Homo sapiens: one gene and its partner. The protein of the gene in region 2 purifies or fractionates together with the protein of the main gene of each other region. This does not show direct contact. Each region holds a gene or a part of one and is shown on either strand. Other genes may lie near its edges.

Region 1 (3,500 bases), on a different chromosome or scaffold from region 2:
CAAGAGTCCCCACAATGGTCCTCTAAAATGATTTACCCTCAGTAACTGGCTAGTTGGTCTGCTAATCACCTTTGGCTAGTCGATCTGCTAATTACCTTTTCTCCCTAAGCTTAATAAGATTCTCTTTCCTTTTTCCTCTCTGTGCATCAGTCAGTTTTTACTGCTTCAGGCCCTCCAAACATACTCTGATGACATCTTGTCTTCTGAAACACATACCAAAATTGATCCCACTTCTGGCCCAAGGCTCATAACCCGCAGGAAGAATCTCTCTTATGCACCAGGCTATAGAAGAGATGACCTCGAGATGGCAGCCCTGGATCCTGACTTAGAGAATGATGATTTCTTTGTCAGAAAGACTGGGGCTTTCCATGCAAATCCATATGTTCTCCGAGCTTTTGAAGACTTTAGAAAGTTCTCTGAGCAAGATGATTCTGTAGAGCGAGATATAATTTTACAGTGTAGAGAAGGTGAACTTGTACTTCCGGATTTGGAAAAAGATGATATGATTGTTCGCCGAATTCCAGCACAGAAGAAAGAAGTGCCGCTGTCTGGGGCCCCAGATAGATACCACCCAGTCCCTTTTCCCGAACCCTGGACTCTTCCTCCAGAAATTCAAGCAAAATTTCTCTGTGTACTTGAAAGGACATGCCCATCCAAAGAAAAAAGTAATAGCTGTAGAATATTAGTTCCTTCATATCGGCAGAAGAAAGATGACATGCTGACACGTAAGATTCAGTCCTGGAAACTGGGAACTACCGTGCCTCCCATCAGTTTCACCCCTGGCCCCTGCAGTGAGGCTGACTTGAAGAGATGGGAGGCCATCCGGGAGGCCAGCAGACTTAGGCACAAGAAAAGGCTGATGGTGGAGAGGTCAGAGTGTGTTTCTGCAAGGATTTTGCTTGTAATGGATGGTCTTGTGTAACTTTTCTCATGCGAGAAAGCAGCTCATCGTGTTGCTCAACTCTGCATGTCGCGTGCCATTTTGAAGCATCCCGTAAAATTTAATTTGCTTTGAAAAACCCTCAGTCGTTTTGTACAAAAAGTGCAATTCCATATTTGCATATCTCTAAATAACTTATTTAGGCCTGTTTAAGACTGTATATACATAAACCTTGCCTTTGACTTAAGCAGTACTGTGGTACTATCCACCAATATGAAGTTTCTGGACTTCTCATGTTCAGGCATTTTTGTAACAGTCTGGTTATAGTTTGGTTTTATGTGTTGCTCACATTTTAGAGTGTCTGATTTTTTTGGGGGGGTGAAATTTTCCCTTAAAATATGGCATTGCAAATTTCATTTAACTTAATTTTTGGTTTTGGCCTAGGTTTCTTGGACTATCATTTGTAACTTATTTTTATTTATGAAGTTCAGAGTAAACGTTGATGTTAAAATGCATGAATGGTATTTGTTGTCTGCTGAATTTTATGTGTATGTAATCATGGCCATTTTGATAGTTTGTATTATGCAACTTGCCTTTTTGATGAATGTTCAGTTTGTGGAACTTAGAGATGGACAAATCTGATTAGGTTGAATAAAATTAGAGGATCCAAATCTAACTTAACAGTTCCTGACAATGGGAAGCCTTTTCATATGGATTTGTTAGCTCAGAGTAAATTGAGGAAATTCTTCATTTTGCTTAATCTGAATTTCCTGAGATAGGAAATTGATGAGAACTTGAGACATGATCAAGAATGTGATGGAAGAAGTGACCTTTTGAGATTTGTCCGTCTCCAGTTAGATTCTTAAGTGGAAGACATTGAACGTTTAGAAACTAATATGACTGGGAAAAATGACTTTTTAATTTTTGGTTTTCTGGTTTCTTAGACTCTTTCAAAAGATTTATGGTGAGAATGGGTAAGTTGTGTGGTTCACAGTAAAAAATCTGTGCGTGTTGTTTGTTCTTTGTATAACTTACTGTATTTCTGGCATGGCATGTCACTAAATGGGGTTGTTGTGTGCTGTGCATGATATTTTTTAAGTGGGAAATGTTTATCTTGCAACCTAATGGTAATATTTCTGTGTCTTGGTGCCCAGTGCAAGATAAAATTATTTGTTTTATTAAAAATTTAAACTTCAGCTTCATCCCTTCTTTTTTCCTTTTTAAAAATTTAATGAGTTGATTAAAAGTCACAAAAGCACTTGCCTAAGATTAGGTATATGTATTTTGGTATTTGGTTGCTACATAGACTAAAATTCTGATTTATGGATGCTAAAGCCCAAATTACTACATTTTAGAAAATCTGTGATGGAAAAAGAATATTAGCATTTACTTCAAGTTTAGAATACACCCAGTTGACATTATCCTATAATCGGCCAACTGGGAGCTTCGTTAGTAGGGATGCATTAAACTTCCCTAGGTGGTATTTGGAAGTATTATATTTTCAAGATTCCTGATTAGGAAAAAAAAGTTATAACATGGCTATATTTATAGTGCAAAATAGACCTTCAAAAACTGCAAAAATATTTTTAATTTCTAATATCACTGTTGCAAAAACTACATTTTTTTTTTTTTTTTTTTTTGAGATGGAGTCTCGCTCTGTCGCCCAGGCTGGAGTGAAGTGGCGCAATCTTGGCTCACAGCAACTTCCACCTCCCAGGTTCAAGCAATTCTCCTGTCTCAGCCTCCTGAGTAGCTGGGACTACAGTTGCATGCCACCACACTCTGCTAATTTTTGTATTTTTAGTAGAGACGGGGTTTCACCAGATTGGTCCGGCTGGTCTCAAACTCCTGACCTCAGGTGGTCCATCCACCTCAGCCTCCCAAAGTGCTGGGATTACAGGCAAAAACTACATTTACAGTAAATCATTTATTCATTCTTAGTACAAAATCACAAGGTGGCTATATCTTAATATTTTCCACCAAACTTTCTGTAACTTTGTGAATCTAAGGGCTAATAGTGTTTGAGCAAGAGGAAGAGAGTTAAAGGATGACAGATGTTTTAATCTGCTCAAGCCTCAGTAGCTAAGTATCTTCCCTTATGAGGATTTACTTCATCTATAAGAATCTCTAGTTTTGATAGCTTTTTATAACTTTGATAATTCAGAAATGTTGGAAGCTACTAAATGTAAAGCAGTATAACCATTCTAGATGCCAAAGGTGTAACTGAGCCACAGGCAACAAATTGCAAGTACTTGTTAGCCACTGATTTTAAAAACCAGGGTCCCTGCATGCTTTCCGTGTGCCATGCAAAGGCACATTATCCGCTTTCCAGCTCATCTGCATGATGCTTAAACATTTGCTACTCTCAAGTCATAGGAAAGCTGTTTTAACTTGATTAAAAATCTCTTTGCAGCTTTAAGCATGTTGAATTGTAACTTTCAGAAAAATTTTCATTTGTAAATTAAATATAACTTTATAATGTAAGCAGCTCTCAGAAATAGTTGCTTTTCTTAAAGGAAATAAAAGTACCCAGAGTACAAGTATGTGGTGGAAATGTCAACATGTACAACCATTTCAGTGGCTGGATGTGTTCCCTGTAGTGAGGGGTAAATTATATGAC
Region 2 (3,500 bases):
AGTTTAGGCCAGGTGCGGTGGCTCACGCCTGTAGTCCCAGCACTTTGGGAGGCCGAGGTGGGTGGATCACCTGAGGTCAGGAGTTCGAGACCAGGCTGACCAACAAGGTGAAACCCCATCTCTACTAAATATACAAAAATTAGCCAGTCGTGGTGGCAGGCACCTGTAATCCCAACTACTCGGGAGGCTGAGACAGGAGAATTGCCTGAACCTGGGAGGCGGAGGTTGCAGTGAGCCAAGATTGTGCCACTGCACTCCAGCCTGGGTGACGGAGAGAGACTCCGACTCAAAAAAAAAAAAAAAAAAAGAAAGAAAAAGAAAGAAGGAACAGTTTAAACAAAAGTGTTGATGAGGCTGAGCACAGTGGCTCACACCTGTAATCCCCGCACTTTGGGAGGCTGAGGCCGGCGGATCACTTGAGGTTAGGAGTTCAAGACCAGGCTGGCCTACAAGGTGAAAACCCGTCTCTACTAAAAATACAAAAATTAGCCAGGCATGGTGGTGTGCACCTGTAATCTCAGCTACTTGGGAGGCTGAGGCAAAGAGAATCGCTTGAATCCAGGAGGCAGAGGTTGCAGTGAGCTGAGATGGCACCACTGCACTCCAGCCTGGGCAACAGAACAAGACTTCATCTCAAAAAAAAAAAAAAAAGTGTTGACGAGGGAAAGGCTAGGTGTGTCTGGACCATGGCAAGGGGTCCACTGTGGTAAAATATAGAACTCAAGGCAGATGAGAGGCTGGAGAGGTGGGCAGGAATGGGTTATGGAGGGGACCTTGAATAGCACACTACGGAGTTTATTCTGTAGCTCCCGGAGAGCCATTGCATGCTCCAAAGTAGGGAGGGAGCGCAGTGCTTTGGGAAGTCAGTTTGTTTGGGGTGTGAAGAGTAGATGTGAGAAAGAAAGCCTGGAGATGAATTAAGAGCATCTGCGGTACTCCGTGCTCTGAGTCAGGAAGGTCCCAAATGAAAGAGTGGCAGAAGGAATGGTAGGAAGGGGAGGATGTAAGCGATATCATCAAGTCAGAATCATGAGTTCTTGGTGCCCGGATGTTAGAGGAGGGAAAAGGTGAAGATGGCTGAAGCTGTACACTTTCATGATGGTGGAATGGAGGGGTCCCTTGGGAATTAGGGGTGTCTCTAGGAAGAACCAGCTTAGGGTACATTGAGAAAGAGGAGACAGTGCAACATCACAGGAATAGGAGAGACTTTGGAGTCAGACCTGGATTTCAGTCTCAGCTCTGCTGCTTGGTGCAAGTTGATTAATCTCTCTGAGGCTGTTCCCTCATCCGTAAACAGGGGATCATAGCATCAACCTCATATGGCATTTGGAGTAGGTTAGGGGTACAAACTTATGCTCCTGCATGTGGCAGATGCTCAATCAGAGTGTGGGAGCTGCTCCTTTTAGACATGTGAGTTTGATGGGACCTGGGCACCTTACATACAGAGAGGTCAGCAGGCAGCTGGGAAAGCTGTGTGGAGTCCTGAAGAGAGAATAAGCGTGAAAGGACCCAGAGGCCTGAGGGGCATCTCCTTAGAAACCTAACCAGGCCAGGCAGGGTGTCTGTAATCCAAACACTTTGGGAGGCCAAGGCGACCTGATTACTTGAGGTCAGGAATTTGAGACCAGCTGGCCAACATGGTGAAACCCCATCTCTACTAAAAATACAAAAATTGGGCCGGGTGTGGTGGCTCTCACCTGTAATCCCAGCACTTTGGGAGGCCAAGGCAGGTGGATCACTTGAGGTCAGGAGTTTGAAACCAGCCTGACTAACATGGTGAAACCCCATCTCTACTAAAAATACAAAAATTAGCCCGACGTGGTGGCGGGTGCCTGTAATCCCAGCTACTTGGAAGGCCGAGGCAGGAGAATCGCTTGAACCTGGGAGGTGGAAGTTGCAGTGAGCTGAGATGGCACCACTGCACTCCAGCCTGGGCAACAGAGCAAGACTCTGTCTCAAAAAAAAAAAAAAGAAAGAAAAGGAAAAAGAAACCTAAACAAAGGCTTTGAAGAGGTGAGACAGGAGGAGGACAGAGAAAGGACAGAAGGAGATCCTTGTATTTTAAGGGCAGTGGGAGAGTCAGCAAAAGAGATTGCTGTGGAGTAGGACAACCATTTGTCCTTCTGTCATTCATTCAGAAACATCTGCTGAGCATCCCTTGGCCAGACCCTCCTCTAGGCATATGGTGAACAAGACACTTCTACTACCCTCTGAGTGGAGGAGAAGGCATAAAACAGTTCGCTACACAGTTGTCCTGTTTCCAGTTGTTGGGACTATTATAGAGGAGAAGCATAGGGTTCTGAGAGCAAGTGTGACCAGGAACCTGCCTAGTTCCAGGGTGCGGATAGGCTGCAATGAAGGGAGAGGGCTCTACAAAGGCAACAGGTTATGCAAAGGCTCCAAGGTGGGAAGGCATATGGCCAGCCCACTGGCCATTCTCAATGGATGAGGGAGCAGGAGGGGCATGCGGGCCAAGGCCTTCTGGACAGGCCCATAGCCTCACACTATGCAGGAGCATTGTGGGCCAAATTTAGGATTCATCCCGAAAGAAATGGAAAGGGAAACTCAAAAGTGATGTGAACAGATGTGTGATTTTGACATCATCTGAGTCAGGGGAGGAGATAATTTTTACAATTTGGGAGAGAACCACATCCTTCAACCCTTTGGAAGGGGCAAGAGGAAAGACTTCGGTTTGGCTGTCAGCATGTCACTGGTTGCCTTCAGGAAGCCTCCTGTGCTGGGATCTAGAGAAAGATGCAACACAAAAGGTTAAGATAGGATGAAAACTAAGAGTAGGCTGGGTGCAGTGGCTCACGCCTGTGGCCCCAGCACTTTGGGAGGCTGAGGTGGGCAGATTACCTGAGGTCAGGAGTTCGAGACCAGCTTGGCCAACATGGCGAAACACTGTCTCTACTAAAAATACAAAAATTAGCCATGCGTGGTGGCCCGCGCCTGTAATCCCAGCCACTGGGGAGGCTGAGGCAGGAGAATCGCTTGAACCCGGGAGGCGGAGGTTGCAGTGAGCCGAGATCACACACCTGCACTTCAGCCTGGGCGACAGAGGGAGACGCCATCTCAAACAAACAACAACAAAAAAACTAAGAGTAAAGCAGGGTTCAGGAGAGTCTCAAAAGTAAGCACTAAGCTGAAGGTGAGGAGGTAGGGAGAGAAGGGGTAAGGTGAGATCACTGGTTTAGCTAACCATCCCCCTCAGGAGCTGGGATGACTGGGATTGGTACTCAAACCTCTTCCTCTGATGCCAGCAGCAAGTAAGAGGAGAGGTGAGAGACAGGAGGAATTTGAAATACACAGAATGAATATTAAGGGATCTAAAACTTCTTGGTAAGTAGAAGAAGAGATGGCCTTTGGCGATTAGTGGAGCCCAGGTGGGCCTTCAGGTTGAGTGGGAAGTGGTTTCTGGGAGGAGGGTTAAGGGAATTGGCACAGAGCAGTGTTGAGTGTCTGTTTGCAGGTTTTCGCCCTGTTATTCAACAGATATT

Evidence for each region. Proteins that work in one complex are often made in the same cells at the same time.
Region 1: the proteins of ECE2 (region 2) and LMO7 purify together in Homo sapiens (affinity purification with mass spectrometry; one large-scale study listed by BioGRID and IntAct). This does not show direct contact.

What each region holds. Positions count from the first base shown.
Region 1 is NC_000013.11:75,807,330-75,810,829, forward strand, and holds part of LMO7 (LIM domain only protein 7), read left to right. Parts: intron 1-150; coding exon 151-870; intron 871-1,824; coding exon 1,825-1,854; intron 1,855-3,500.
Region 2 is NC_000003.12:184,279,022-184,282,521, forward strand, and holds part of ECE2 (endothelin-converting enzyme 2), read left to right. Parts: intron 1-3,500. UniProt on the Homo sapiens protein: Converts big endothelin-1 to endothelin-1. Also involved in the processing of various neuroendocrine peptides, including neurotensin, angiotensin I, substance P, proenkephalin-derived peptides, and prodynorphin-derived peptides.